3 separate regions of the Homo sapiens genome follow, and all the other regions are reported to be linked to region 1. The links are microRNA targets in miRTarBase. Many come from high-throughput screens and were not tested one by one. Region 1 holds a microRNA gene; each other region holds the end of a gene's coding sequence.
Evidence for each region. Region 1 holds the annotated microRNA hsa-miR-4755-3p (AGCCAGGCUCUGAAGGGAAAGU, at 1,298-1,319, opposite strand). A microRNA usually pairs through its seed, bases 2 to 8, with sites in the 3' UTR of a target mRNA and lowers its output. Matches are read on the target gene's strand: a 7mer-m8 pairs with bases 2 to 8, a 7mer-A1 pairs with bases 2 to 7 and ends in A, and an 8mer does both.

Region 1 (3,260 bases):
GGCAGATTAAGGCCAAAAACAACAGCAAAGCATTTTTGGATCAAGGTCCTGCCTGGGGACAGAGAAGTAAATAATACAAGTCCCTGTTCTTAAGTAAGGCACTAGACCAAGACGGTTTGAGCCTAACTAGAGGCTCTCTTGCATAGCAAAGTCTCTGGCACATGGGTTATATTCAAGAATTGTTTGAACCGAACTGAATCAAAGGAACCTACATTCTGCAAGTTAAGAGCACCTGTTTGGTGTCAGGAGCCCAAGACTTCTAGATTCAATCCTGGTTCTGACATGTACAATTCAGGGACTCTGGACCTCAGTTTGCCCATCTGTAAAGTGCACTTTGTCTACCCCACAAGTTGCTATGAGTAGCCAATGAAGTAGTGGCTCAGTAAATGGCACTCTGTAAATGGCATGAGATGGAACAGCAGGAGCTGATGGGAGCACGGGCGCACATGATCTTAAAAGTTTAGAGTCCAGCCTGAAGAAGACCTGAAATAAGCTCCTTTCTTTCTCCCCAGTCAGCTTAGATCTGCTTTTCAAACACAGCAGACATTCTCTGCATTTCTGGTGACTGTGAAAAGGGGAAGGGGATAATTTGCCACTAAGTAGGGGATAGAAAGAAAGGTTGCCATCTTTATACTTTTCAAAATAAGAGCACGGGATTTGGATTTATAATCCTAACTTTTGTTAATCAAAAGCTGTGAAACTATGAACAAGCCTCAACCTCTCTCAGTTTCCTCATCTGTACATTGTGGGGAAATTTCCTAAGTCATAAGATTGCAGTTAAGGTTCAATGAATTAATGATGTCAAAAGTGTTTTGAAATCCACAAAATGCCAAACAAACGCCAATCATTACAAAGTTGTCTGTCTTCTCATCAGTTTACCAGCTACATAGGACAGTGGTTATTTACCATTTGACAGGTGAGATCATCAAAGCCCAGAGAAAGTGCTTAAAGTAACACACAGCTCAATTCTGACTTCTTACAGCAGAGGTAACTGTTCCTTTACTACAGGGGTTCTTAATTAGCCTGCTTGCCTCATTAAACTGACAGATCTCTGAGGGAGGGGACTACATACATCTTACACATTTTTGTACCCCAGTGCCCATCATGGCACACCTAAAAGATGTGAAGTGTTACTAGAATGATGACTAACATATTGGTAGCAGAAACATATCTAGAACTCAGGACTCCTAATCCCAGATCCAGGGTTCTTTACAACCATACAGTGGCCCAAACCTCATAGACTCGGCTTGCCTTAACATCTCATCTCTTCCTCAATTCTCCACTCTAGCAAGATTCAACTTTCCCTTCAGAGCCTGGCTTTCATAGATGCCAAAGCCAGGCTCTGAAGGGAAAGCTGAATCTGGCTTTCATAGATGCCAGTTCCTCAGCCATAACCTTCCTCATCTCTCCTTGCTGAGCTAATTCCTATCCATCTCTCAGACTTGGAGGCCTTTCTAATCTCTCCTAATACTGGGTCAGGTATTTACTTTCCTCCATGGCTGTTTTGTTTATCACAGAGTCCTGGCACACAGAATGTGTTAAAAGTATCTGTTGAAGGCTGAATGAATGAAACACTGGGTGTAGAAATCCAAAGGTGATGCAGAGAAAATTTTTTTTTTTTTTTTTTGAGACGGAGTCTCGCTGTCTCCCAGGCTAGAGTGCAGTGGTGCGATCTCGGCTCACTGCAAGCTCTGCCTCCAGGGTTCACGCCATTCTCCTGCCTCAGCTTCCCGAGTAGCTGGGACTACAGGCGCCCGCCACCACGCCCGGCTAATTTTTTGTATTTTTAGTGGAGATGGAGTTTCACCGTGTTAGCCAGGATGGTCTTGATCTCCTGACCTCGTGATCCACCTGCCTCAGCCTCCCAAAGTGCTGGGATTACAGGCGTGAGCCACCACGCCCGGCCGCAGAGAAAATATTCTTGACCTGGAAGTCATGCAGCCTGACTGATTCTAATTCTAACTCCACTACTAATGCGTTTCGTGATCTTGAGCAAGTCCCAGTTCTTCTTTGGACCATCTATAAATGAGTTACACAGTATGATCTCAGAAGGTCCCTCCATTGTTAAAAGCATATGAGACTTAGACTCATGTGAAGTCCTAGGGATGAGGAGATTCCAAAGCCAGCTATATGCTCCATAGCATAGGAGACCCAACACTCTCATCCCCCCAGGAGCACGAGAGACACACGACTCTGCTGTCAGGAGCCTCCCAGCCCATTGGTTTACTTAATTCCTCTTGATGAAGTGCCAAGAATAAATCGTAGGTGAGCAGCAGAGCATTTTAACGAGTCCAGAGCCTAATGAATCTTTTCCTTCCTGTGTCAATTAGAATTTCAAAGCTAGGATCCCCAAGGACCAATTTATTGGGAACAGAGAGAAGAAGCCTTTTGTTCATCAGCAGCTGCCTGAGCTACCTGCTCTGCTCCTGTATCTCTGCTGTGTAACAATCCTGCTTACTCAGATATAACATCTGGCACAATAAAGCCTGGCCTGGAGGCTCCTTCTTGCCCAACATTTCTGGGGTCTGAACTTGAGGAAGGAAACAAGGGTCCAGGGTATTTCTGAGGGCAAAGGTGGGGTTGGGGGTTGGTCAGGGAATCAGAGCAGTGCTGACGTTGCTGCTATCTCCTAGGGATACTGGCCTTCAAAGAGCTAACAGCCACAGATCACCAGGCTACTCACCCAACTAAGTATCTGGTACTGTGTGGCACCTATTTACCTGTTATTTTAAATCCTCACAACCTCAAAAGCAGATATCAACCACATCATTTTAGAGAAAAGGAAAAAGAGGATCTGAGAGCTAAAGGATCAGCCTAAGGAACACAATTATTACAGTAAATGGCAGAGAAGGATTTGAACTCAGGTCTGTGCGACTCCGAAGACTAAAGCTCTATCAAACCAATACAACTCTGCCAGGAGCTGATGTCTTGAATGGCAGAGATGGCCCATGGTCAGCCATAGACACATTAGGCATTTGCCACCAACACACTGTCTTTTGCCCGGGCACATGCAAGAGTGGCTGCGCATCACCAGTCCTTCCATTCAATGGAGCTGGCAATCCTCCATCCCTAGAAGATAATCCAAGCAGAGTCACCATCAACACTGCCCCCTGCTCCTACCCCAGAAACCTTTTATTTGTGAGGAATTTCCAATTCTTGATCTAATGGCTCCCATGCACCCAGTTCTCCACCTCCCATACTGTCCGCTCTAAGTCACACAGGGCCAGCCCAGGTACTACTGCTCTGTATTCAACAAAGAC
Region 2 (3,260 bases), not on the chromosome of region 1:
CTGTGTCCTTACATTTTTATGCATGGAAGCTTTTATTTTTATAATTTCTCAGAAGGTTGTTCACTGAAAGTTATGTGTATTTGATTTTAATTCACACCCAGATAACTTTGCCAGCAATGTTTCTGCCAATTTCCTTGCATCTTCACCAAAATGGATATTGTCACTATTTAACCTTAAACCAATCTGATAAAAACTAGTATTACAGTAATACTTTTTAAAAAACAATCCATTAACCCTTATAATGAAGATGAACACACTTTATATTTGTTGACTTTTTCAATGTCCTGTTCTGTGAATTGCTTATTCACAGTGTGACCACTTCTCCAATAACTTAAACTTCTCTTTGTATACAGGGACACTGACATGTTTCCTATTACTATACAAATATTTCTTCTAGTCTACTTGTTGTTTTAACTTTGACTGTGGTCCCTGCCATATGACATTTAAATTTTTTATTAAGTAAAATATGTCTGTGTTTCCAATCTTGTTAAAAAGATCACTTCCACCCTAAGGTTGTATAGACTTTTCTTTGAATGTGTCTTTGTATTGTGTTTCCATTGTTGGGACCAATGTGAGAAATTTCTGCAATTCTTCTAAAAAATATTTTTTTTTTCAAAGAAGGGAGGGCAAGGGCAAAGAGCAAGAAAGGAGGATGGAGATGACTGGTCCATGGTTTTAGTTAAGAAAAATCCTAGATATCAGAAAATAAGATTTGTTAATGTTGTGAATCCTTATATGATCACAAAGCCACATTCTTAGGAAACACACAATTAAAAAATGTATTTTGATGTATCCACTCCATTAATGTGGATAATGAAATTTTACATATATGTATATCATTTTATATTTAAACATTTCAACAATTTTTATTCCCACCTTCCTTGAATGCTGCTTACCTATCAACTTAAAAAGACGGTAGAAAAGAACAGGGTATTCGGGAAAGTTATTCCATCCTCCTTACATTAACCAAATACAAATATGGAAATTCTTGATTTTAAAATGTCACATATTTTAAGTCAGCTAAATTGGCAACGATATTAAAACAATAGTATACCCCCTAAAAAAGTTTCTGCATGATTGTTTATTTAAAATATTATGACTCTGGATGTAAATACATATGGGCTTACATAATGTATGATTATCCATATAAATGCTCAATTAAAATATTTAGTTCATCCTTAAACACCTTTTGTTCTAATAAGCATAATAGTAAATATTTTATCTCATTGGAAGTGTTTAAAGCTGTTTGAATCTTGATTTGTGAAGAAATTACTGAAAAATAACTTAAGGTTAACTACATCAAACAATACTATTGTTTGCAATGCTGTCAGATTTCTCCATGGCAAAATAGTCGCATATGGTTATTGCACGATTTATAGGTACAGGTTATTATGTGCATATAAACTCTCTACATAATGACAGTGTTTGCACTGCAACTTGCTCAACACATTTAAAATTGTTGAAATACAATTTACAAAATCTTTAACAACATACTTTTAAGATAAAAGTATCCTGAGGATATTACAAAATTCATTTTACCAGCCCTTCATTTCTTTGCTTTGACTCTTTAATTTCCAAGATAATCGTTGCCCATATTTTATTACATAAAATGCTATTATTATATATTTCCTATTAAACAAAATATATTTAAGTTAAATAGTACATAATTGTCCCATAAACACTTAGTCCCATCTGCCTGTAGTCTCATTGGTTAAAATCAAGTATTTATCAAGTTTTCTATAATTCTGAATCAGAAAAGGTACAGCACAAAACAGACAGAAACAGGGTTAGCACATTTAAGTTAAAAGCATTGTGCATTTTAAATATTTTGGTCATATTTTATAATAAAATATTTTGGCAAAAATAAAATATAAGGTTTAGTTTATTTTCTATTAATGGTAGATCTGGAGAGTATTTTACATTTCTAAATAGTATCTACTTAATTTGACTGCTTTCACATTTGTTTCTGAAAACACTGCTATTCGCTTTTCAGAATTTTGAGATTAAAAGCACCTAAAAATAAGATAAAATAAAATTTAAGTAAAATATTTGTTTGATGCTCGAAAGTTGACAAATTCACAAACTTACTTTAAGTGTCTTACATGATATATGCCACCACAGAAACTTTATTGCCTGCTAAGACTTATTTGACTAAATCTAATCTTTAAAATAATAATCCTGATAGTCTCCTTGAAACTTATTTGAAAATTAGGATGGGAATTCAAAAATTTTTTAAAAATGAAAAGCACAGTTGCAAAAAAAAAGTTATTCTGGTGGCAATAGTTGTTATGGCACAAAAACACATGAAAAACCAGTTTTCGCTAATATATACAACTAAGTTCAAATAAGATGTGTAAGATACACACACACACACACACACACACGTATACATACATACAACTTGGGTTCCGGAGGGTAAACTACTGAAAACCTTACATATTGAGCCATCTAGCTCATTTATCACTGACGTCTCAATGACAATTTTAATGAAGATGTTCATTATTTTTTTCATTCTTACTCAAATACCTATCATTAATTAAGAGAAGAGTTTGAGATGTATAAGGCTAATAAAGGAAGTGAGAGTGTGGTGAATTAAGTGATGAGTATTATGTACAATTGCCTTTACAAAAAACGTATTTTTACTGTGGAAGAAATTCATGCAGAGATGCCTGTGGAAAAGTATCAATAAGAAAACAAAACACCTTTAACACTATGACATACTGATTATAATATACTATGATATGTATTATTACAGCATTACTTACACATTCTACTTTAGGCAATGTAATCTACTTCTGAATGACCTTGTTAATTTTTAAGGCATCAGTGCATCAAGGGCAAAGCTCCATAAAATAAATATAAAAACAAGAAAGCATTAGCTAATTTGTGGCATAGAGAATGATCACTGTATATTATATCTGTTGGCCACTTCCATATAGGTAATAAATTGTACATCTTATTGTAAAAATGTTATAGCATAAATTTCACATCATTTTTCAACACTTCATTTAAAGGGCTAAACTGATCTGGCAGTATTCTCATTTTCATTGTTCCATCAGCTCCACAGGAGAAAATGTGATTTGCAGGCCCTGTCTCAATTTGCATCACTCCAGTTCCAATATTTCTAAAAATGGACTGCCGAGCATGTTCACTGACAAAAGTATGGAGAAGACCAAAGGTAGAGAGACTCCAAATCTGAAAGATATTAAGAACAAACGGAAAATTAGGGTTGATGATGACCTTAAGAAATCAAATGAGGC
Region 3 (3,260 bases), not on the chromosome of region 1:
TTGCAGAGGAGGTTGAGCAGGTCCACAGAGGCACCACCATTGCCAATGTGGTGTCCAACTCTGTTGGCACTACCTCTGGCATCCTGACCCTCCTCGGCCTGGGTCTGGCACCCTTCACAGAAGGAATCAGTTTTGTGCTCTTGGACACTGGCATGGGTCTGGGAGCAGCAGCTGCTGTGGCTGGGATTACCTGCAGTGTGGTAGAACTAGTAAACAAATTGCGGGCACGAGCCCAAGCCCGCAACTTGGACCAAAGCGGCACCAATGTAGCAAAGGTGATGAAGGAGTTTGTGGGTGGGAACACACCCAATGTTCTTACCTTAGTTGACAATTGGTACCAAGTCACACAAGGGATTGGGAGGAACATCCGTGCCATCAGACGAGCCAGAGCCAACCCTCAGTTAGGAGCGTATGCCCCACCCCCGCATGTCATTGGGCGAATCTCAGCTGAAGGCGGTGAACAGGTTGAGAGGGTTGTTGAAGGCCCCGCCCAGGCAATGAGCAGAGGAACCATGATCGTGGGTGCAGCCACTGGAGGCATCTTGCTTCTGCTGGATGTGGTCAGCCTTGCATATGAGTCAAAGCACTTGCTTGAGGGGGCAAAGTCAGAGTCAGCTGAGGAGCTGAAGAAGCGGGCTCAGGAGCTGGAGGGGAAGCTCAACTTTCTCACCAAGATCCATGAGATGCTGCAGCCAGGCCAAGACCAATGACCCCAGAGCAGTGCAGCCACCAGGGCAGAAATGCCGGGCACAGGCCAGGACAAAATGCAGACTTTTTTTTTTTTTTTTTTTTTTTTTTGAGATGGAGTCTCGCTCTATCGCCCAGGATGGAGTGCAGTGGCTCAATCTCGGCTCACTGCAAACTCCGCCTCCCGGGTTCACACCATTCTCCGGCCTCAGTCTCCCGAGTAGCTGGGACTACAGGCACCTGCCACCACGCCCGGCTAATTTTTTTGTATTTTCACTGGAGACGGGGTTTCACTGTGTTAGCCACGATGGTCTCCATCTCCTGACCTCGTGATCTGCCCACCTCGGCCTCCCAAAGTGCTGGGATTACAGGCGTGAGCCACCGCGCCTGGCCAAAATGCAGACATTTTATTAGGGGGATAAGGAGGGCAAGGTAAAGCTTATGGAACTGAGTGTTAGTGACTTTGGCATTTGTGTAGCTGAGCACAGCAAGGGAGGGGTTAATGCAGATGGCAAGTGCACCAAGGAGAAGGCAGGAACACTGGAGCCTGCAATAAGGGAGGAGAGAGGACTGGAGAGTGTGGGGAATGGGAAGAAGTAGTTTACTTTGGACTAAAGAATATATTGGGCGAAGAATAGAGGGGGAGCTTGCAGGAACCAGCAATGAGAAGGCCAGGAAAAGAAAGAGCTGAAAATGGAGAAAACCAGAGTTAGAACTGTTGGATACAGGAGAAGAAACAGCAGCTCCACTACCGACCCCCCCCCAGGTTTGATGTCCTTCCAAGAATAAAGTCTTTCCCTGGTGATGGTCTCTCGCTCTGTCTTTCCAGCATCCACTCTCCCTTGTCCTTCTGGGGGTGTATCACAGTCAGCCAGTGGCTTCTTCATGATGGTGGTTGGGGTGGTTGTCATGTGACGGGTCCCCTCCAGGTTACTAAAGGGTGCATGTCCCCTGCTTGAACCCTGAGAGGCAGGTGGTAGGCCATGGCCACAATCCCCAGCTGAGGAGCAGGTGTCCCTGAGAACCCAAACTTCCCAGAGAGTATCTGAGAACCAACCAATGAAAACAGTCCCATCGCTCTTAGCCGGTAAGTAAACAGTCAGAAGATTAGCATGAAAGCAGTTTAGCATTGGGAGGAAGCACAGATCTCTAGAGCTGTCCTGTCGCTGCCCAGGATTGACCTGTGTGTAAGTCCCAATAAACTCACCTACTCACCAAGCTGGACTTGTTCGAGTCATTCTTTGGTCTCTCAGCTCCTTCTAAGCTTTGGGGGCCATCAGTCTCAAGTTTTTCTCGTAATGGTGGTGATGGTGGTTGTGATGGCAGCAGAGTGGTGGGGGCCTTGGCAAGTGGTCGGTGCTCTTCCAGACCAGGGGACACCGATGGACCGATGAAGTTCCAGGGGAACTTGAAGTGCTGTGTTGGAAAGAGGTTAATTTGGGAAGAAAGGAAAAATGAAAGGAGATGCCAGGAACAGGTCAAGGAAGCTTGAGGTGTGTCCAGGAGTTCAACCCTGCTTGTGGTCATGAGACTTCACCCCTCTGAGCCTCAGTTTCCTCATCAGCTGTAGAAGGGGGCTGGAAAAGGTGATATCTCAGGTCCACCTTGCTCTCCCCATCTTGTGTTCTGGAGACTTGAGTCAATCAGCACTGACTGATGGCTGTGACTTTGTGGTGCCGATGGAGGCTCCCCTGGGCTCTGGGTGCCTGACTTAACCTTCCTCATGATCCTTCTTCCAGGGTCTCAGGGAGCGAAGTTTCAAGACCCCTTCTGCTCGCTCACTGGACTCTCACTTTCCCAGCTGGTCATTTCCCTGAGACCTCAAAACCCCAAGCCCATTGGGGCACTCGGGGAAAGCTTGTACATGTCTGGCTCTGGCTGAGCACAGGTGTGGTTTCCATCTGTGAGTCAGAGCCCGGGATTGACACGGGACACTCGAGGCTAACTAGTGTCAGAGGGGCCTGTGTGCAGATTGGGAGAGGATCAGCGAAAAATAGAGGGACAAAGAGAGACATCCAGACAGCAAACACTCCCATCCAGTCTGTCCTCACGTTTTGCCCAGACTCCTGCAAGAACTTCCAGAATGGTCTTCTCTGTGCCCCTGCCCCTGTCCCTCCCATGTCCTGGACCATGCTCCACACTGGGCCAGGTTGGGCTTTAACAATATAGTTTCTTTTTTTTTTTCAGATACTCTCACTCTGTTGCAAGGCTGGCAAACCGTGGCACAATCATGGCTCACCACATCTTGGACCTCCCGGCCTCAAACTATCCTTCCACCTTGACTCCCTGAGCAATTGGGACCATCCGTGTGTACCCCAATGCCTCGTTAATTTTTGTATTTTTTTTTTTTTTTGTAGAGACAGGGTTTCCCTATCTTGCCCAGGCTGGTCTCAAACTCCTGAGCTCAGGTGATCTGTTCACCCTGGCCTTCCAATGGACTGCAATTGCAGGCATGAGCCACCATGCCCACCTAAGAACATAGGTTTGATTGAGCACCTGCTTCCAACCCTCTAATGGCTTCCCATTACTCTTAGCACAAAGATGTAGGCCATGATGCTGCCTAAAGTAGCCTG

Region 2: the mRNA of DMXL1 is a reported target of hsa-miR-4755-3p. The part of its 3' UTR that is shown has no 7-base or 8-base seed match.
Region 3: the mRNA of APOL2 is a reported target of hsa-miR-4755-3p. Seed matches in the 3' UTR shown: 7mer-m8 at 1,073-1,079.

The regions. Positions count from the first base shown.
Region 1 is chr20:34,047,221-34,050,480 of GRCh38, reverse strand. It overlaps MIR4755 (microRNA 4755), which reads right to left and starts at 1,362; the gene lies at 1,291-1,362. All of the region lies in intron 2 of RALY (RALY heterogeneous nuclear ribonucleoprotein), which reads right to left.
Region 2 is chr5:119,246,930-119,250,189 of GRCh38, reverse strand. It overlaps DMXL1 (Dmx like 1), which reads right to left. Exons shown (of 44, transcript NM_001290321.3): 44 at 1,063-3,195. The coding sequence ends at 2,971. Among named protein-coding and RNA genes, the nearest start is that of MIR5706, 94 kb to the right of the region's middle.
Region 3 is chr22:36,224,854-36,228,113 of GRCh38, reverse strand. APOL2 (apolipoprotein L2) reads left to right here. Exons shown (of 5, transcript NM_030882.4): 5 at 1-1,905. The coding sequence ends at 710. Among named protein-coding and RNA genes, the nearest start is that of APOL2, 13 kb to the left of the region's middle. RefSeq lists an enhancer at 273-951.